3 linked regions of the Homo sapiens genome follow. The protein of the gene in region 1 interacts with the protein of each later gene in a biochemical or structural test. Each region holds a gene or a part of one and is shown on either strand. Other genes may lie near its edges.

The links.
Region 2: the proteins of CHAF1B (region 1) and CBX5 interact in a test that uses a peptide from one of them, tested with the Homo sapiens proteins (one study listed by BioGRID).
Region 3: the proteins of CHAF1B (region 1) and ASF1B form a complex in vitro, tested with the Homo sapiens proteins (2 studies listed by BioGRID and IntAct).

What each region holds. Positions count from the first base shown.
Region 1 is NC_000021.9:36,380,734-36,388,529, forward strand, and holds the start of CHAF1B (chromatin assembly factor 1 subunit B), read left to right. Parts: upstream 1-4,658; 5' UTR 4,659-4,718; intron 4,719-5,326; 5' UTR 5,327-5,403; coding exon 5,404-5,529; intron 5,530-6,864; coding exon 6,865-6,997; intron 6,998-7,796. UniProt on the Homo sapiens protein: Acts as a component of the histone chaperone complex chromatin assembly factor 1 (CAF-1), which assembles histone octamers onto DNA during replication and repair.
Region 2 is NC_000012.12:54,230,305-54,235,631, reverse strand, and holds the end of CBX5 (chromobox protein homolog 5), read left to right. Parts: 3' UTR 1-4,690; downstream 4,691-5,327. UniProt on the Homo sapiens protein: Component of heterochromatin that recognizes and binds histone H3 tails methylated at 'Lys-9' (H3K9me), leading to epigenetic repression. In contrast, it is excluded from chromatin when 'Tyr-41' of histone H3 is phosphorylated (H3Y41ph).
Region 3 is NC_000019.10:14,126,233-14,133,878, reverse strand, and holds part of ASF1B (histone chaperone ASF1B), read left to right. Parts: intron 1-7,641; coding exon 7,642-7,646. UniProt on the Homo sapiens protein: Histone chaperone that facilitates histone deposition and histone exchange and removal during nucleosome assembly and disassembly. Cooperates with chromatin assembly factor 1 (CAF-1) to promote replication-dependent chromatin assembly.

The sequences.
Region 1 (7,796 bases):
ACTATGCCCAGCTAATTTTCGTATTTTTTGTGGAGACAGATTTTTGACTTGTTGCCCAGGCTGGTCTCAAAATTCCTGGGCTCAAGCGATGCACTCCCCCACCTCTTAACCTCCTAAAGTGTGGGGATTACAGGAATGAGCCCTAACTTAGGGTTTTGTTTTTTTTGTTTGTTTGTTTTTCTGTACTCTGTATACTCCAGGGTATTTCAGATGTAAGGTATTTCAATACATCTAATAAATTTCCTGGTCTAGACTTGGTGACAGCCATTTCTCCAAAAGTTCTGCTTCATTTTGTGGGAAATGCTATTTGAAGATAATAATCTAGGCACAGATATAGTCATTGTTTCTAGTTAGGCCATTTCTTTTTCTTCTTCTTCTTTTTTTTTTTTTTTTTTTTTTTTCTTTTGCGACAGGTCTTGCTCTGTTGCCCAGGCTGGAGTACAATGGCATAATCATAGCTCACTACATCCTCAAACTCCTGGGCTCAAGTGCTTCGCCTTCCTCAGCCTCCCAAGTACCTGGGACTATAGGTGCATGCCACCATGCCTGGCTGATTTTTTTTTTTTTTTTCTAGATACGGAGTCTTGCTACGTTGCCCACGCTGGTCTTGAACTCCTGGGCTCAAGTGATCCTCCTGCTTCAGCCTCCCAAAATGTTGATATTACCGGCATAAGCCACTGTGCCTGGCCTAGTTTGGGCATTTCTAGGCCTTTTTAGTAGACTGAACTAAAAGAGACTATAATATAGTCTCTTTTGCTGAAAATCTGGGTTCCTAACCACACAAGTATTTGCTCTTCCTAATGTATACATAAATACATAGGTATGCATATATGTAACAATACCAATATTTTCTAGCCATAGTATGACTGAAGGTAAGCTTTCTTTGGGGTAGTATAAAATTTCTGTGTTTGCCAATCACTTGAAATAATAACTCCTTGTGTGCATCACACACATCCATGTTGCTGCCTGTGTCAGTCAGTGTAGAGTTCTCCAGAAAATCGGAGCCCAATATGATAGATGCAAGAGATTGATCAGGAGGAGTGGCTTAAGTGGTTATGGAGTCTGAGAAGTCCCATGATCTGCTGTCTGCAAGATGGAGACCCAAGAAAGCCTGTGGTATAACTTAGTCCCACTCCAAAGCCCTGAGAACCAGGGACACCAGTGGCATAAGTCCTGGAGTCAAAAGACCTGAGAACCAGGAGCTCTGATGTCTGAGGGTGGAAGAGGATGTCCCAACTCAAGAAGAGACAGAATTTGCCCTTCCTCTACTTTTTGTTCTTTTCAGACTCAACAGGTTGGATGATGCCCCAGATACTGCCCAGGTTGGTGAGGGCGGATCTTCTGTACTCAGTCTACTGATTCAAATGCTAAAGTCTTCCAGAAACACCCTCATAGTCAGAAGTAATGTTGACCACCTATCGGGTATGTCTTAGCCCGGGCAAACTGAGGCATAAAATTAACTATCACAGTATTTCTTTTGGATTACCGAGTAGAATACCGTGGTATGAATATGGCACAGTCTGATTACCTTTTCTCCTGTGGGTGGACATTTGGTGTCTTTCTAGTTTGGGGCTATTATGGATAATGATTCTTGTATGAGTTTGCTTTTGTTTTCCTGATATATATGCCAAGGAGTGGAATTGCTGAGTCATAGGGTAGGCGTATCATTAACTTTATTAGACAGTGCTGAACAGTTTTCTAAAGTATTTACATCAGTTTACACTTCCACCAGTAGTGTGCCAGAGGTCCCGTTGTTCTCAATCTCCTGTATTGATTTCCGTCATTTCTATTTTTCTTTTTCTTTCTTTTTTTTTTTTTTTTTTTCAGACTGAGTCTGTTTCTGTCGCCCAGACTGGAGTGCAGTGGCATGATCTTGGCTCACTGCCCTCTGGGTTCAAGTGATTCTAGTGCCTCAGCCTCCGAGTAGCTGGGATTACAGGCGCCACCACCATGCCTGGCTGTTATTATTATTATTATTATTATTATTTTTGAGATGGAGTTCTGCTCTTGTTGCCCAGGCTGGAGTGCAATGGCGCAATCTCGGCTCACTGCAATCTCCGCCTCCCAGGTTGAAACGATTCTCTGGCCTCAGCCTCCTGAGTAGCTGGGATTACAGGTGCCTGCCACCGCGCCTGACCTATTTTTTCTATTTTTAGTAGAGATGGGGTTTCACCATGTTGGCCAGGCTGGTCTCAAATTCCTGACCTCAAGTGATCCGCCCGCTTCAGCCTCCCAGATGCTGCAATTACAGGCGTGAGCCACTACGCCTGGCTTCTCCTAGTTTTCTTATTCTGATATTTGCTCAACATTTTTTTCCAACCCTGTACTGAATTTTGTATGTCTGTTATCAAAGCTTTTTTTTTTTTTTTTTTTGAGACAGAATCTCACTCTGCCACCCAGGCTGGAGTGCAGTGGTGCCATCTCAGCTCACTGCAACCTCCAAGTCCCGGGTTCAATGGATTCTCTTGCCTCAGCCTCCCTAGTATCCCGAGTAGCTGGGATTACAGGCACACACTACCACTCTGTATAGTTTTTGTATTTTTATAGAGAAGGGGTTTTGCCATGTTGGCCAGGCTGGTCTGGAACTCCTAGCCTCAAGCAATCTGCCTGCTTTGGCCTCCCAAAGCGTTGGGATTATAGATGTGAGCCACCATGCCCGGCTCAGATTTTGATTTTAGAATGTTCACACTTACAAATGGAAATTAAAATGCCTTGAGAAGTTTTTTTTCGAAGCTGAGTTAAGAGTTAGTCCCTTTATATCAATTTTCATTATTAAAAAGTTCTCAGGAACCAAATAACATTGGTCCCCTTAAATTGAGGCAGTTCTGCTCAAAATGGATGCTTGGGGCCCAAGCTGAACAACAGTGGTTGTTGAGGAATCTAGTTAGAATTGCGTTATAGGAATTCCCTTTTTTTTTTTTTTTTTTTTTTTTGAGACAGAGTCTCGCTCTCTCGCCCAGGCTGGAGTGCAGTGGCACGATCTCGGCTCACTGCAAGCCCCGCTTCCCGGGTTCACGCCATTGTCTTGCCTCAGCCTCCCGAGTAGCTGGGACTACAGGCGCCCGCCGCCACGCCCGACTAATTTTTTGTAATTTTTGTAGAGATGGGGTTTCACCATGTTAGCCAGGATGGCCTCGATCTCCTGACCTCATGATCCGCCCACCTCGGCCTCCTAAAGTGCTGGGATTACAGGCGTGAGCTACCGCGACCGGCAGGAATTCTTTAGTCCAACATTTGTGGTGCAAACTTTGAGGTTTTGAACAAATACTTTTTTTTTTTTTTTTGAGAAAATATTTGACAGCCCAGGGCCTCTCTCTAGAGCCGCATCCCCTGCCCGTGTTGGCTCATCAAGTTGGCACTGAAGTCGGATCTCTAAAATGTTCGCCAAGAAAGCCAACTCCTTCATGTACTTTTAATACTTAAAGCATGTGTTTTTATCTTTTAAATCCACAGTTCAGAGTCGTGACACTTCAAGAGGTGGGCAGATTATTCATTTGTGAATGAACAGCATTTATGAGAAATTTGGAGAAATTTTATGTTTGAGAGACACGAAGAATCCAGAGCTTTCCAAAACAGACTGATGATCACACCCACCGGGGAGTTTATGAAAATGCAAGCCCCTGGAGCACGGGCCTCTGCTGGATATTCGGAATCATGGGGCTGAGTAGGGCCAGGAATCTGTACTTTTAGAACAGCCATATTATCTAAAGTATATAGTCATTCCCAGTCCAAGCTCTGTAAATCCTGAAGAGAAAAATCTAAAAACTGCATATCCGGATTATGTTATTCTAGCTTCCTGTAGAAATCAGGCTTCAAGGAGCATACAGCCATTCTCATCAACATGAGACACGGATTTGTAGGCAATTTCTGTACCTTTCATAAAGCTGGCTAAAAGCATCAGCCGGTATTTATATAAGAATCCATGTCTGTTCTTTTTTTCCAAAAATCCTAGAGCAGTTGGCTCCTCAGATAACCCTGTGTGTTTCTTTTATCCAGTAAAAGCAGCGCATCCAGAGGTACTTGTTTCCTGGCCTTCTGCGAAGCCCACAGATAAATTAGGTCTCATTTGGAAACGTCCCATTTCGAAAAGCCTGAGGTATCTATCTCTGCCTACCGACTGATTTACAGCCTCACTTTAAAATGTTAGTCTGTTCTTAAAAAGGGTTTATAACTGCATCTACTATAATAATAAAATGTAAGCAACCTTGCGCTAGGTACTGAACAATTTCATAGCTTTGAACTCTCCAAAATGTTCTAGAAGCCAATACAGAAAACCCAAAAATCTCAGTTTTTGTTTGCAGAAGGGGCAAGAGAACCGGTTGTGTTAGCCCTCCAAGTGCCCAGCGCCAGCATAGGGTCTGTCTAACACACAGCCCAGGCTCTGTAAACCTTTGCTAAAAGAGCGAATCAACAAGGAATAAGTAATGGATAATAATAATAAATAATAATGAATCCATTCTTCCTTCGGTCGTGGGTCTGGCAGGCATAAATTCCGGCCGGGATTCCGACCCCAGGGCCAGAGCAGGACTCGCCTTGGCGTCTATGAGTGGGCGGGGCTTCCCTGGGGTACCGCCCACGTCGGGCGGGACCTGAGGGCCGCTGGAGGGGCGGGGCGTCTATGAGGTCCCGCCCATGCGGGGGCGGGGCCTGCGGCGCGCGGGAAGCGGCGCGCGCTGCGCGGGAGGTGACGGTGCCTCTGACTGTCCGGGTCCCTCCAGGTACGGCTTCCCTGGCCCGGGCAGCTCCGCGGCTCTTTTGGTCGCGTCGGTCCGGGCCAGAGGCCCTCGCCGAGGGCGGGCCCCTGGGCCCCGGGATAGCTCCGGAGCGGCGCGCGTTGGGGCGGCGGGGCCCCGTCCACCCCCGGCCCCGCGCGGCCTCCTCCCGGCGGCCTCAGTCCCAGCTTCCCGGGCCCAGCGCCCGGTCCCTGGGAAAGGCGGGGTTCTCCTCTCGCCCCGCCGCCCCGGTCCCCTACCCCGTTTGGCCCCCTCTTCCGGGAGGCTCCTCCCGGGGCGGGCCCCTCCCCGGGCTCTCAGGGCGCGCCCCTAGCCCCTACTAAGCGGGGACAGGCCGTGCAGACGGCCGGGGCCCCTAGGTAGCCTTTACCTGGGTGTTTCGTTTTGCTTTTCTGGATGTAGCGGCGTATCATAAACTTGTGGATGTCAGGACCCAGCGAAGCATTTTAGGTGGAGCTAGCAAGGTGTTATTGTCAGATGGCAACGTTAACATCCTTTCCCAATGCAGTGTGCATTTTAAATGGCTCCTGGCCCCTATTCAGCGCTCAATAACCCTTTGCTGCTGTTAACACTGTTGTTTAATCCATCACCAGCATTTTGCAGCTTTCTCCTGTCTTGAAGAAGTAGAACGGTGCCCGAGAAACGTTTTTCCCCTTCGAGACTCAGGAGGATGAAAGTCATCACTTGTGAAATAGCCTGGCACAACAAGGAGCCCGTGTACAGCCTGGACTTCCAGCATGGGACGGCTGGGAGGATCCACAGACTGGCGTCTGCCGGCGTGGACACCAATGTCAGGGTAAACTGGGGCAGAGATAGACATCCGGGAACACTGCTTGAAGCAATAGTTTTCATTCTTTTACTTAAAACCAGTGTCGGCTGGGCGCGGTGGCTTACGCCTGTAATCCCAGTGCTTTGGGAGGCTGAGGTGAGAGGATCGCTTGAGTCCAGGAGTTCGACACCAGCCTGGGCAACAGCCAGACATGAAAAAGTAGCGGGACGTGGCAGTGTGCAGCTGTAGGCCCAGCTACTTGGGAAGTTGAAGTGAGAGGATCGCTTGAGCCTAGGAGTTTGAAGCAAGCAACGATCACTCCACTGCACTCCAGCCTGGGTGACAGAGCCAGACCCTTCTCTTAAGTAAATGAATGAATGAATTAACGTATGTCAACAAACTAAACTACTTTGTCATCTAGCCCAGAATGCTAAATTTCCAGGGCCTGCGGTGAACAATGAAAGCAAAAGAGAGCTGCTTTCTTTTTTTTTTTTTTGAGACGGAGTCTTGCTCTGTTGCCCAGGTGGGAGTGCAGTGGTGCAATCTCGACTTACTGCAACCTCTGTCTCCCAGGTTCAAGCTATTCTCCTGCCTCAGCCTCCCAAATAACTGGGACTACAGCCGCTCATCACCACACCTGGCTAATTTTTGTATTTTTAGTAGAGATGGGGTTTTACCATGTTGGCCAGGCTGGTCTCAAACTCCTGACCTCAGGTGATCCACCCACCTTGGCCTCCCAAAGTGCTGGGATTACAGGCCTGAGCCACCATGCCCGGCTCTGCTTTCTTATTTGATTCATTTTCCCTAGATTATTGTAACTGGACGTTCATTGTTTTGGGATCCTGATCCTGGTTCCTACTGGGTAACAAGTTGCTCTAGAAAGAAGGCGGAGGGGGACAGTAGACATTTATGTTTTAGATAGGGAGTTCTTTGATTTTATGTTTCAAAAGAAAAACTAAGTTTTCTTTCTGAAAATAAGCATAGTTTTGTTTTTTTTTTTTTTTTGAGACAGGGTCTTACTCTGTCGCCCAGGCTGGAGTGCAGTGGCCTGATCTTGGCTCAGTGCAGCCCCGACCCGGGGCTCAAGTGATCCTCCCTCTTAAGCCTCCCGCATAACTGGAACTACAGGCATGTGCCATCACACTTGGCTAATTTTTTAAATTTTCTGTAGAGACTAGGTCTCACTGTGTTTCCAGGCTGGTCTTGAACTCCTGGCCTCAAGTGATTTACCCACCTTGGCCTCCTAAACTGCTGGGATTACAGTTGTGAGCCACCACACCCAGCCCATAGTATTGTTTTAATACAGACAGTATAATATGTGCCCATTCTATGTTTTTCAAATGAATGTGTTGGTATTGACAGATCTGGAAGGTAGAAAAGGGACCAGATGGAAAAGCCATCGTGGAATTTTTGTCCAATCTTGCTCGTCATACCAAAGCCGTCAATGTTGTGCGTTTTTCTCCAACTGGGGAAATTTTAGCATCGGGAGGAGATGGTGAGTATTGCTGTCCTTCAGAGATTCTTCGGGAACCAGATAGATACCTGTGTGTCTTGTGTCAGATAGTGAGATTTGAGCTGGATATGCTTTTTTTTTTTTTTTGAGATAGAGTTTCACTCTTGTTCCCCAGGCTGGAGTGCAGTGGTGCAAACTCGACTCACTGCAACCTCCGCCTCCTGGGTTCAAGCGATTCTCCTGCCTCAGCCTCCTGAGTAGCTGGGATTACAGGCGCCTGCCACCACGCCCGGCTAGTTTTTTTGTGTGTTTTTAGTAGAGACAGGGTTTCATCATGTTGGTCAGGCTGATCTCGAACTCCTGACCTCAGGTGATCCACCTGCCTCGGCCTCCCAAAGTGTTGGGATTACAGGCGTGAGCCACTGCGCCCGGCCTGGATATGCTTTTTAGTTCAGGTGTGGCTGACCCTCTCAATCTGTCATTTAGGTAGTTCAGTAAAATACTGTTCTAGGGAATGTGGTAGAGTCAGGGAGGGAGGACAGCAAGATGAAACCAGGAACACCTGTTTGAAAACAGCTGCTTTCCCGCAAGCTCCCACCAGGCTGTTCTAAGACGAGATGGAAAGGCACTTACCATTCTGTCACATCCCAAGCAAGGCGACTGTTCTGGTTTTGTTGGATTGTTAGTTTAACATCTGTGGTGATCAGAGTCAGTTCTGTGTCTCTGTGTAATTAATTAAATGGCTTTAGGACTGTGTTAGTAATTAATTGGCTTTGGGAGTTTTTTTTTTTTTTTTTTTTGAGACAGTCTCACTGTTATCTAGGCTGGAGTGCAGTGGCAC
Region 2 (5,327 bases), on another chromosome or scaffold:
GGTGATTTCTTTTTTTTTGAGACGGAGTCTTGCTCTGTCTCCCAGGCTGGAGTGCAGTGGCGCAATCTCGGCTCACTGCAAGCTCCACCTCCCGGGTTCACGCCATTCTCCTGCCTCAGCCTCCCGAGGAGCTGGGACTACAGGCGCCGGCCACCACGCCCGGCTAATTTTTTGTATTTTTAGTAGAGACGGGGTTTCACCTTGTTAGCCAGGATGGTCTCAATCTCCTGACCTCATGATCCACCCACCTCGGCCTCCCAGAGTGCTGGGATTACAGGCGTGAGCCACCGCCGGGCCGAGAGGGTGATTTCTAAGCAGAGAATTGTATCAGTTATGTGGAAACCTTTGCCAGAAATACATATACCTTGTATATTAAATCTGAGTCTCAGATTTAATCATCGAAGCGTAGCTGGGTTAAGAAACAGTCTGATCGTAAGGATGTTGTCGATTCTGACCCATGGATGACCACAAGAAAAAGATATTTATTTCTGCCTGGATAATTGAGAGTTGACTAACTTTGGAAGTCAGAATTCCCAGGAATTAGAGTAACTGCTCTGGAAAGTTAAAGTGTGAAGTTTTTTAGATAGTTTCATAAAAACAATTCTGGTTTCTTTTTGCTTGTGCTGACTTTCTTGGATTTTAATCTACCTCATCTTGTCTTTTTAGAGTTACTTCAACTTGTCACTTTAACATTGTGCTTGACTTTGGTTGTTTTCTAAGATGGAATTTTTCCTGTTCATTGACAGCTTGTTCTCTTGCCTTTTCATTCTGATCCTCATTTCATCTAACATCATCTCATATTGCTCCTCTGTCAAGAGAAATGTTTTAAAATAGTTTAAAGTCTTGTTTTATGGGAAGAAAGTGATCCTCCAATGCTATTTGTTTCTGAGGTCAGTAAGAGAAGGAGTTAAAACAAGGCAGTGGGGAAGGGAATGAATCCTGCACTGGAGGCAAAAGCTGACAAGGAAAGAGCCATTAATTAAGACAATTTCAAAGTCAACTGATTGTGATCATTAATGTCACAATAGATCAAAACCTAATTATCACAGCCTAGGTAAGAGCCATCAGTATTAATCGGAAAATCTAATAGGAAACTATTATCAAGAAATTAGGCCAAATTGAATGCAGTGAACTTTTTATCTTGGCATTCTCTATTTTTTTGTGATGTCCCCTGGCATTGGCAGGTGTGACCCTAACAGTCGATTCAAGGCCAAGTGGTCAGTTTGTCAGCCTTTTTTAAGGGATTTCTTTTTATTTTTAGGAATTCCAAACAGAGTTAACCTAAACTGTCATTGCCAAAAGATCAGTCTTAAACTTTCTTAGCACCTGTACCTGTTTAATGTGATCAGCTATCAGTGAGGAAAAAAAAAAAAATCTATTTAGGTCTTGGAATGGTTCCTGTACCTAGAGTATCCATATTGAACCTTTTTTTTTTTTTTTTTTTTTTTTTTTTGAGATGGAAACTTGCTCTTTTGCCCAGGCTGGAGTGCAGTGGCGTGATCTTGGCTCACTGCAACCTCCGCCTCCCGGGTTCAAGCAGTTCTCTGCCTCAGCCTCCTGAGCAGCTGGGATTATAGGCGCCTGCCACCATGCCCGGCTAATTTTTGTATTTTTAGTAGAGACAGGGTTCACCATCTTGGCCGTGCTGGTCTTGAACTCCTGACCTTGTGATCCGCCTGCCTCGGCCACTCAAAGTGCTGGGATTGCAGGCGTGAGCCAGCACCCGGCCACAGTATCTTTATTACAGCTCACTGCAGCCTCAATCTCCTGGGCTCAAATGATCCTCCTGCCTCAGCCTCCCAAGCAGCTGGGACTACAGGCGCACACCACGGTGTCTGGCTAATTTTATTATTTAAAAAATGTTTTGTAGAGACAGTCTCCCTGTGTTGCCCAGGCTGGTCTCCAACTCGTGAGCTCAAGTGATCCACGTGCCTCAGCCTCCCAAAGTGCTGGGATTACAAGCATAAGCCACCGCACCCGGCCCCTAGTGAACATTTTACTGTATGTGTTGATAAATCATCTTTTGAGTTTCTGTTGTATGTGGGGACTTCCTACACTGGCTGCTGTGAAGAGGTATGGAAGAAAGGAGAGGCTTTCTGCCTAGAAATTCTTTGAGAACACCTGAAAAGACAGTTTAATCATGTCACAACACTCTTAAGGCTCAAGTCAGTGTTCTGGTTTCCGGTAGCTTTAGGATTGGATTCTAAACGAGGGCTGGTGGTGAGTTTGGTGTTTGTCTCGTGTCACCCTCACCCCTCACCTCCTCAGTTTAGGATAAGAGACATAATGATTTCTACCAGAATCCAAAGTAAATCCAAAGGGGGAGAAAAGACATAACTGTTTTTTCTTCTACCTTTTTTTTGTTAAAGAGTTACATCTCTCACAGGAGGAAAGAATTCAAGAGTCTATATGATTAGTTACAGAGAATATTTTCATCCCCTCTCCCTGAATAGAAAAGCAGGGGTCACCATTTGTATCCTTACCCTTGAGGTGTTTTTGAAGATGCTGTAACTCTTGAAGTTGAGCTGAGGCAGAAAGGTTGGAAAAATGCAGCCCTCTGGGTATTGTGGGGAGGGATGTGATGTAGTAAGAGGGTGTTTTGTGGTGCTAGGATTCCCACGCCACCAACTTGCAGCTTTATAAGAGCGCTACCAAGAACCACCACTGGGGAAAAGGTTCTTATTCATTGTTTCTGTTGGAATGTGATCTTGCTTTCTGGATTTTAGGAATTCAGGTTACTCAGTATAAAACTCTGAGAAATCAGTGTGACTTAGTCCTTCACCTCCTAAGATAAAGTGAATATTTCTTTACAAAATAATTCATGTCCTTAATGTTAAAGATGTAATTTTATTTTCAAAACATCTATAACATGACTTTCAGAAGCAGTTCATTTTTCCAAGATTCCTCACATTATACTAGATAAATAATAGGCCCTCAGTTAATACCCTTCAGTTATTGAATTAATCTAGTTTGTGGAATGAGGTGTATCCTGCCAACTTCCCTCTGCTCCCAAGTACACTCTGAGAGGTAAAATGCTCTGGGAAATGGAACAAGAATCGAGTGGATGCTGACTCTGTGTGCCCACCTCCTCAACTGATTGATAATGGTTGACCTTGGGCAAGTCACTTCTTTCAATGCCTCAGTTCCCCATCTGTCAAATGGGGTTAATAATACTGACCTACCTCACAGGGGTGTTGTTGTGAGGCATTGTAAATCAAAGTTAATAGAATACTTCAGGGTCCTCTGTGGAGGATGTCTTGAGCCAGAGTTTAAGCCTGACACACAGGCTTTGGTCCTCACTGAGCTGTCTCCAAGACTGGAACTACTTAGTGACTCGGCAAATTTTCTGCCCCCCACCCCTCATCAAAGCTGCTAGTTCAGATGTTGACAGTGTTTTCATGAATGTTGGAATCTTACTAGTCCAGACTTACTTAGGATGTTGTTGGGGAAGGCACTTGGGATTTTCTGTGTCTTGCATTCACAGAGGGAGGCCATTTCAGATTCAAGAGCATTGGATTAGGGAATCGTGAGGCAGGGATGCTACTGCGTATTTCTCTCTGCAGGTTGGGGATTAAAGTTCCTTTCCCCATGGGTTTGAAGCAGACTCAGACTGTCTCAGGATCAAAGCAACCCTCAATGGTTTTGATTTATGTCATTGCTTACCACTCCCCAACCAATCCCAGGACAGCTGGGTCACTGTACCCCTTTGTGGTATCTGTACCTGGGCCTCTCCTTCCTCATAGGGACCAGCTGATTGAATAAATGTGACCACCTTATTTCCACCCCCCACCCCCAAAAGCTACATTGGAATTATTTTTCCTAGAAATGTGTATAACACTCAGAATTGGGCATTGATCCTTAAAGCTTCATCCCATTCACCGTATTCAACATCTGTCATCTCTTAGTGTCTGCAGTCTGAACCTAACCTTGACCTTTTTTCCCTCTGGTTTGAGAAAACTTTGGACACTATTTCTACTTGGCCAGGTGTGGGCTCAAGAGCCTTACTCTTTCCATCTCAGTTTAGGGGCGCAGCCAGCTCCTCTTCCCAATAGGGCTCTTTCTGCTTTCCCTCTCCTTGGCCCTAGATTTGTAATCCATGAAAAAGCACAAGGTCCTGGCTCCTTGCGGTCACATTCTGGTTCTCTGTGTTTTGTGGACTCTGCTCTCACTGTTCACCCAGCACTAGCAGTACCAGATGGTTCTGTGGAGTCCTGGGGAATGGAGAGAGCACAGTCTGACTCCCTGCCAAGTAGCCAGGAGTTGACTTGCCCATGGTCCGCTGGCTTTCCCACCACTTCCTACAGGATGGGATCTAAGAGACTCAAGAGCTGGGTTTCTTTCAGCACTCTGTACTGTCCCAAATAGCAAACAAATCACTTTGTAGCCAGATTTCTGAATGGAAATGAGAAATTGAATTCTCCATGGACTTTTAGGTTTATGGGGGAGTTTTAGCTGTGTTTCTTGGTTTTATTTCAGCCAAACATGTCTGCTTTTGATTTTTTTTTTAAAGTATAAGTGGTCTATATATATGTTCACCTTTTAAATGTAAATGTTTAAAAAGTAAGCATTTATGTGTTTCCATAACTGACATCTGATGCAGACCTCATTCTCTCCCCCTCTTCTACCCTCCTCTTTTCCCCCTTTTCATACTCTTGTATTGGTTCTAATAAATGGTTGCTTTTCAAATATGGATTCTGAGTGGTGGTTTAAAGATCTGGGTCTTATGCCCCTTCTTTAATTTGGGCCCTGGAGTGTCAGCTCAATTTCTGAAAGAGCAACAAGACTTGGAGAACATGGGCTTCTTTTCTAAGGATTATTGGTCTCTGACTTTCTGCAAATAACCACAGGTTGGCGCAAGCCTGAGGAAATAAGATAATGCGTATCCTGTTTCCTACTCTTATTTCCTTAACTGGTTCAGTGTGTACCTTTCCTGGTTTCCATGCTCTTCTCTGCTCCTAATGGTTCAGAGAATAAATATTAGGCTTCAGCAACCTAGGGATCCCTGGAAGAGTCATCTCATGGCTATTAGAACTTATGGAATACCACATCAAGCAAATGCAGTCTAAATCAGGTTTGAAAATATGTGAATTTGTAAACTTTGTATTTTATCTTTCTGATTTGCTTCACAAATACCAAAGAAACTTCTCTGAGGATGGAAGGCTTGCAGGTCAGGAACATGGTGTGAGGTCAGTTGGAAGTTAGGAGGAGGAAAGTATGTGGATAATCAAGAAATTATCGAATAATATAAGCCTGATGTAGCCCTGAATCTAATGGAGATAGGCAGAAACTCACAGAAGAGAGAAGTGAGGAAGATGAAGGGGTCACCA
Region 3 (7,646 bases), on another chromosome or scaffold:
TGAGCCGAGATCGCGCCACTGCACTCCAGCCTGGGCGACAGAGCGAGACTCCGTCTCAAAAAAAAAAAAAAAAAAAAAAAATGGTTGTGCGGTCATTATCTGGTACTTCTACTCCTAGGAAGCCCCTGCCCTGTGACTTTACTAACTTATTTATAGAATTAGAGCCGGAAGGGCTAAATTCAACCTGCTGGTCCTTTTTTTGTTTTTTTGGAGATGAAGTCTTGCTCTTGTCCCCCAGGCTGGAGTGCAATGGCGCGATCTTGGCTCACTGCAACCTCCACCTCCCAGATTCAAGCGATTCTCCTGCCTCAGCCTCCCGAGCAGCTGGGATTACAGGTGCCTGCTATGACGCCTGGCTAATTTTTGTATTTTTAGTAGAGACGGGGTTTCACCATCTTGGCCAGGCTGGTCTTGAACTCCTGACCTCAGGTGATCCGCCCGCCTCAGCCTCCCAAAGTGCTGGGATTACAGGCGTGAGCCACTGCGTCCAGCCTCTGCTGATCATTTTTTAATAGAAATGGAGTGACTTCACCAGAGTCACACAGCCAGTTTGTAGAAGTATTGGCACTGAAGTTTTGAATCTAAATTCTTTATCTTTGCTCCAATCCAGGGAAAGAAAGGAAGGATTCCCTGTTTCAGGGGTGGAGCATAGATAGGAATGACCACAGAATTTATTGCCTAATCAGGACACTCAAAATGCAGTGAAGGGAAGTGCTATTATTATTATTTATTTATTTATTTATTTATTTATTTATTTTTGAGATGGAGTCTCGCTGTGTCACCCAGGCTGGAGTGCAGTGGCGTGATCATGGCTCATTGCAAGCTCCGCCTCCCGGGTTCACGCCATTCTCCTGCCTCAATCTCCCAAGTAGCTGGGACTACAGGCGCCCGAAACCATGCCCAGCTAACTTTTTGGATTTTTAGTAGAGACGGGGTTTCACTGTGTTACCCAGGATGGTCTCGATTTCCTGACCTTGTGATCCGCCCGCCTCGGCCTGGGATTACAGGCGTGAGCCACCGTGCCCGTCGTATGATTATGATGATGATGATGATTATTATTAGAAATGGAATCTCACTATGTCACCCAGGCTACAGTGCAGTGGTGCAATCTCAGCTCACTGCAATCTCCACCTCTCGAGTTCAAGCGATTCTCCGGCCTCAGTATCCCAAGTAGTTGGGATTACAAGCTTGAGCCACCATGCCCGGCTAATTTTTGTGTCTTTAGTAGAGACGAGGTTTCACCATGTTGGCCAGGCTGGTCTCAAACCTGATCGCAAGTGATATGCCCACTTCAGCCTCCCAAAGTGCTGGGATTACACTTTGAATCCTAAGCGCCTGGCCAGAGAATGCTATTGTTAATTGTACCTGGATGATAAAGCTTTTCCTTTGAGTAACTCAAGTGAGAAATCCTGGCTCTTCCAGTCCTAGGGCTCTCTGTGACTGATCTGCCAGCTTGCTTTCTGCCTCCTTCTGGACTCCTCTCCATGAAAAAGGGAGAATCTGCCTCACTCTCAGCAGCGTCAACTGAAAATCTGACAAAACCCCCAACCCAGCTGTGTGAGGTGGCTCATGCCTGTAATTCCAGCACTTTGGGAGGCTAAGGAAGGAGGATCTCTTGAGCCCAGGAATTTGGGCCAGCCTGGGTAACATAGCAAAACCTTGTCTCTACAGAAACATCAAAAAATTAACGGGACTTGGTGGCACGTGTCTGTGGTCCCAGCTACTCAGGAGGCTGAAGTGGGAGGATTGCATGAGCCCAGGAGGTCAGGGCTGCAGTGAGCCATGATTGCACCACTGCACTCCAACCTGGGTGAGAGAGCAAGACCCCCATCTCAAAAAAAAAAAAAAAAAAAACCACCCTAACCCCTAAGCCCCAGTTGGGTGACCCCTATTTCTCAGGGGCCCCAAGCCCCCTTTGCACTTTTATCTTCCACATCTGGAAATAGATTCTTCCACATTTAGCTGAGAAATTCAACAGACACTGGTTGAATAAGTCATAGAAGCCAGATGTTCTGACCCAGAAATAACGAAGTTGTTATGGCAGCAGAGCTCATCTTTGATTATGAACAAAGGCAAAAAGCAAACAAACAAAGGAGGCCTGGCATGGTGGCTCACGCCTGTAATCCCAGCACTTTGGGAGACCAAGGCGGGCAGATTACCTGAGGTCAGAAGTTCGAGACCAGCCTGGCCAACATGGTGAAACCCCGTCTCTACTAAAAATACAAAAAATTAGCCGGGTGTGGTGGCGGGCGCCTGTAGTCCCAGCTACTCGGGAGGCTGAGGCAGGAGAATGGCGTGAACCCAGGAGGCAGAGCTTGCAGCGAGCCGAGATTGCACCACTGCACCCCAACCTGGGCAACAAAGCAAGACTCCATCTCAAAAAAAAAAAAAAAGAAAAAGCCAGGTGTGGTGGCTCACACCTGTAATCCCAGCACTTTGGGAGGCCGAGGCGGATGGATCACAAGGTCAGGAGTTCGAGACCAGCCTAACCGACGTGGTGAAACCCCGGCTCTACTAAATACAAAAATTAGCCAGGCATGGTGGCACGCAGCTATAATCCCAGCTACTCAGGAGGCTGAGGCAGAAGAATCGCTAGAACCCGGGAGGCAGAGGTTGCAGTGAGCTGAGATTGTGCCACTGCACTCCAACCTGGGTGACAGAGCGAGACTCTGTTTCAAAAAAAAAAAAAGAAAAAAAAAATGGCCAGGCACAGTGGCTTACCCCTGTAATCCCAGCATTTTGGGAGACCAAGGCAGGTGGATCATCTGAGGTCAGGAGTTTGAGACCAGCCTGGCCAATGTGGTGAAACCCTGTCTCTACTAAAAATACAAAAGTTAGCCAGGCTTGGTGGCAGGTGCCTGTAGTCCCAGCTATTTGGGAGGCTGAGGCAGGAGAAGCGCTTGAACCCGGGAGATGGAAATTGCAGTGAGCCCAGATTGCGCCATTGCACTCCAGCCTGGGCGACAGAGCAAGACTGTCTCAAAAAAACAACAACAAAAAAGCAGGAAGCAGACTTTTTAGCTAGTTCAGCTATACTAATTGTGTACATGTCTTTAGTCTTATCATTTATATATATATATATATATATATACACACAAACACACAGTGGAGGTATGTCTTGCACAGGGACTAGCTTGTGAAGTTAGCGCAGAGAGATAACATGGGACACAGTTGAGTTGCCTTGACATTGCTCAGAAGGTTAGGTACACACGTCATGTGTACAGCTGTGTCCTGTACTCATAGCTATGAGTTCCTGCTGTATTGGTGATTTGTGTCCCATGTATAATTCTAAAGAAAGATTATATTTAGAGATGAAATCATACACGTATGTCTCTACTTATAACACTGCAGCCAGATTTTTTTTTTTTTTTTTAAAGAGATAGGGTGTCACTATGTTGCCCAGACTGGACTTGAACTCCTGGGCTTAAGCAGTCCTCCCACCTCAGCTTCCTAAGTAGCTGGAACCACAGGTGCACATCACCATGCCTGGGCACTTCAGCAAATTTAAGATGATTCTCGACTGGGCATAGTGGCTCATGCCTGTAATCCCAGCACTTTGGGAGGCCAAGGCAGGCGGATCACAAGGTCAGGAGATCGAGACCATCTTGGCTAACACAGTGAAACCCCGTCTCTACTAAAAATAGAAAAAAAAATTAGCCGGGCGTGGTGGGGGGTGCCTGTAGTCCCAGCTGATTAGGAGGCTGAGGCACAAGAATGGCATGAACCCGGGAGGCGGAGCTTGCAGTGAGCCGAGATCGTGCCACTGCACTCTAGTCTGGGCAACAGAGTGAGACTCCATGTCAAAATAAAATAAAATAAATTAGAATTACAGGTGCACACCACCACGCCCAGCTAATTTTTTATATTTTTAGTAGAGATGGAGTCTCACTCTGTCACCCAGGCTGGAGTGCAGAGGCACGATCTCAGTTCACTGCAACCTCAGCCTCCCGAGTAGCTGAGACTACAGGGGCATGCCACCACGCCTGGCTAATTTTTTGTATTTTTTGTATCACCATGTTGCCCAGGCTGATCTCGAACTTCTGAGCTCAAGCAATCCACCCGCCTCAGCCTCCCAAAGTGCTAGGATTACAGCCATGATCCAATGATCCACCTCACCTGGCCCTATACCTATAACTCTTTTTTTCTTCCTTTCTTTCCTTCTTTCTTCTTTTTTTTTTTTTTTTTTTTTTTTTTTTTTTTGACGGAGGCTGGCTCTGTTGCCCAGGCTGGAGTGCAGTGGCAAAATCTCGGCTCACTGCAATCTCTGCTGCCTCCCAGGTTCAAGCAGTTCTTATGCCTCAGACTCCTGAGTAGCTGGAATTACAGGTGCACACCATCATGCCCAGCTAAATTTTTATATTTTTAGTAGAGATGGGGTTTCACCATGTTGCCCAGGTTGGTCTCGAACTCGTGAGCTCAGGCAATCTGCCTGCCTCGGCCTCCCAAAGTGCTAGGATTACAGGTGTGAGCTGCCGTGCCCAACCAGCTTCTGTAACTCTTGAGTCAGTATTTCTCTACAGCCGTTAGTTAATTCTCCAGTTTCTTTCCAGCCCTGGTTGAAAGAGCCATTTCAGCCCCTGTGCCTGACAGTCAACACAGTACATTTTTTCTTTTTCTTTTTTTTCCTTTGAGATAGGGTCTCTGTCGTCCAGGCTGGAATGCAGTGGCTCGATCATGGCTCACTGCAGCCCTGAACTCCTAGGCTCAAGCGATCCTCCAACCTTAGCCTCCCGCATAGCTGGGACCACCGGCACGCGCCACCACACCCAATTAATTTTGTTGATTTTTAATAGAGTCGAGTCTGCCTATGTTGCAGGGGCCCATTTATTTCGGTGAGTTTCCACATGCTCTTTGTTTAGGTTTTGCCGATTAGTATTGACCTCAGCTGGACAACATCAGGTGCTCGTGGGTACACTTTAGTCTTTTTTGTCTACCTTCCCAGGACATGAATTAAATGCACCCGTACAGGATTCTACCGGCTATGAGAGGAAAGGGCTCAAGGATATACACCAAAATGATACAACTGCTTTAGAAAGGAGAGAGCAGGGCTGGCTGGCTTTTCTGTCTTCCCCCAAAACTTGATTCCAGTTGTGTCACTACTTGTAACAAAAATAAATCAACAGGCTGGACATGATGGCTCAGACAAATTCCAGCACTTTGGGAGGCCAAGGCGGGAGGATTGCTTGAGACCAGGCTGGGCAACCAAGCAAGACCTCATCTCTAAAAACAATTTAAAAATTCCCTGGGCGTGTGGCACAAGCCTGTGGTCCCAGCTACTTGGGAGGCTAAGGCAAGAGAATCACTTGAGCGCAGGAATTTGTGGCTGTAGTGAGCTATGATTATGCCACTGCACTGCAGCCTGGGTGACGGACCGAGACCCCATCTCCAGTGAAAAAAGTCAACTTCCTCCCTGCAAATAGTAAGAGGCTAGTTCGACCAAACACCTGTGAGTTCAATGGTCACCCGTATCCTACAGACCTGCTATAGGGTTCCTGAGTGAAACCACAAAGGGACAGGCAGCCAGTGCATCAAAGAAGGGCATGGGGCTCAGGTGACAAGCCTCTGTAGTCATGACCTGGCAGCAGCATGCTTCCAAAGTTGGATGCTCTTGTGGGACACTGGACCAAGGAACAGGGCAGCTTCTGAGAGAGTTTGCTTCCTGTGAAAATCACAGCTTGTGAAACTTCCCCCAGCTGCTAGAGCTGAAGGGTTGTGTAATTTCTAAAGAGCCAAAAATAAGTTTCAAGCCTCTTGCCAAGCCTCCCTGTACCAGCATGACCTTGCCCCTGATACACTTGGACCTCCTGCAAGAGGCCATGTTGACCGGAATTTCCTGTGATTGACAGCCAGAGGTTCCATAAGCACTTTCCTTTCATCTCAATGGAGCATATTCAGGGGAGGGGGCCCTCCTGCTGGATGGGGTGCAAGAGTTAGGGTTTGAGGCTGGGCACGGTGGCTCACACCTGTAATCCCAGCACTTTGGGAGGCGGAGGCGGATGGATGACCTGAGGTCAGGAGTTCGAGACCAACCTGGCCAACATGGTGAAACCCCATCTCTACTAAAAATACAAAACATTAGCCGGCTGTGGTGGCGGGCGCCTATAATCCCAGCTACTCAGGAGGCTGAGGCAGGAGAATCACTTGAACCCGGGAGGCAGAGGTTGCAGTGAGCCGAGATCTCACCATTGCACTCTAGCCTGGACAACAAGAGTGAAACTGTCAAAAAAAAAAAGTGTTTGGAGGATCACCCCGGGATGCCACATTTGTTGACTGAGTTGCCCAAATGTCTCTAAGTAGGCATGACTTGGTGCCAGATCTGGAAGACCAGGGTGGCTGGCTCCCTGAGCAACCTCACCTTCCCCCTCCTGCAGGCTGGCTCTCCTGCCGGATTGGAATCTGCCACCCTGCCCCAGTTGTCGAGGGATCCACTTCGTTGAGTGGCACCGGTCCCTGTGTGTGAAAGAGGATGCTGCTTCCTATCCCAGCACCCAGTGGGCAGGGCCCTGAAATGACCCAACTCCCTGCCGTTCCCTTCTCAGCACGTCTGTGTCACGTGGCTCTTAATTCAGCCTCTGCCATACAGTTCACGCTCAGGCCTTGAGAGGCCCAGGTTTCCCCAGAGGTATAGTCAAGGTCACCTGTCATAGCTAGGCTTACAAGACAGAATTCCCTAATGGAGGTAGAGCTTTGTGCCCACCTCAGCATTCAAGACTGCAGTGCCTGGCACTAAGTGTCTGACAGATGGAATAATAGTCTTTTAACATATTAAGGATCTGTCTAAAATTACCACAAGGCTGGGCACAGCAGCCCACACCTGTGATCCCAACATGGTGGGAGTCCGAGGCAGGAGGATCGCTTGAGCCCAGGAGGTTGAGGCTACAGTGAGCCATGAACATCCCGCTGCACACCAGCCTAGGCAACAGAGGGAGACTGTCTCAAAAAATAAGTAAATAAAAATAAAATAGAAGATGTGGCCGGGCGCAGTGGCTCACACCTGTAATCCCACCAGTTTGGAAGGCTGAGGCGGGCAGATCACTTGAAGTCAGGAGTTGGATACCAGCTTGGCCAACATGGTGAAACCCCATCTCTACTAAAAATACAAAAACAGGCCAGGTACAGTGGCTCACACCTGTCATCCCAGCACTTTGGGAGGCCAAGGCGGGTGGATCACCTGAGGTCAGGAGTTCTAAACCAGCCTGATCAACATGGTGAAACCCTGTCTCTACTAAAAATAAAAAAATTAGCCAGCCATGATGGCAGGTGCCTGTAATTCCAGCTACTCAGTAGGCTGAGACAGGAGAATCGCTTGAACCTGGGAGGCAGAGATTGCAGTGAGCCAAGATCACACCATTGTACTCCAACCTGGGTGACAAGAGTGAAACTCCATCTCAAAAAAGAAAAAAAAAATTAGCTAGGCGTGGCAGCGGGCACCTATAATCCCAGCCACTCGGGAGGCTGAGGTATGAGAATCACTGGAACCTGGGAGGCGGAAGTTGCAGTGAGCTGAGATCGCATCACTGTATTCTAACCTGTGTGACAGAACGAGACTCCATCTCAAAAAAAAAAAAAAATACAAGAGCCTATCCCTGCCTTCTTGCTGTTGAGCTATTTCAATTAGTTAACCCTCCTATATCTTTGCAGACCTG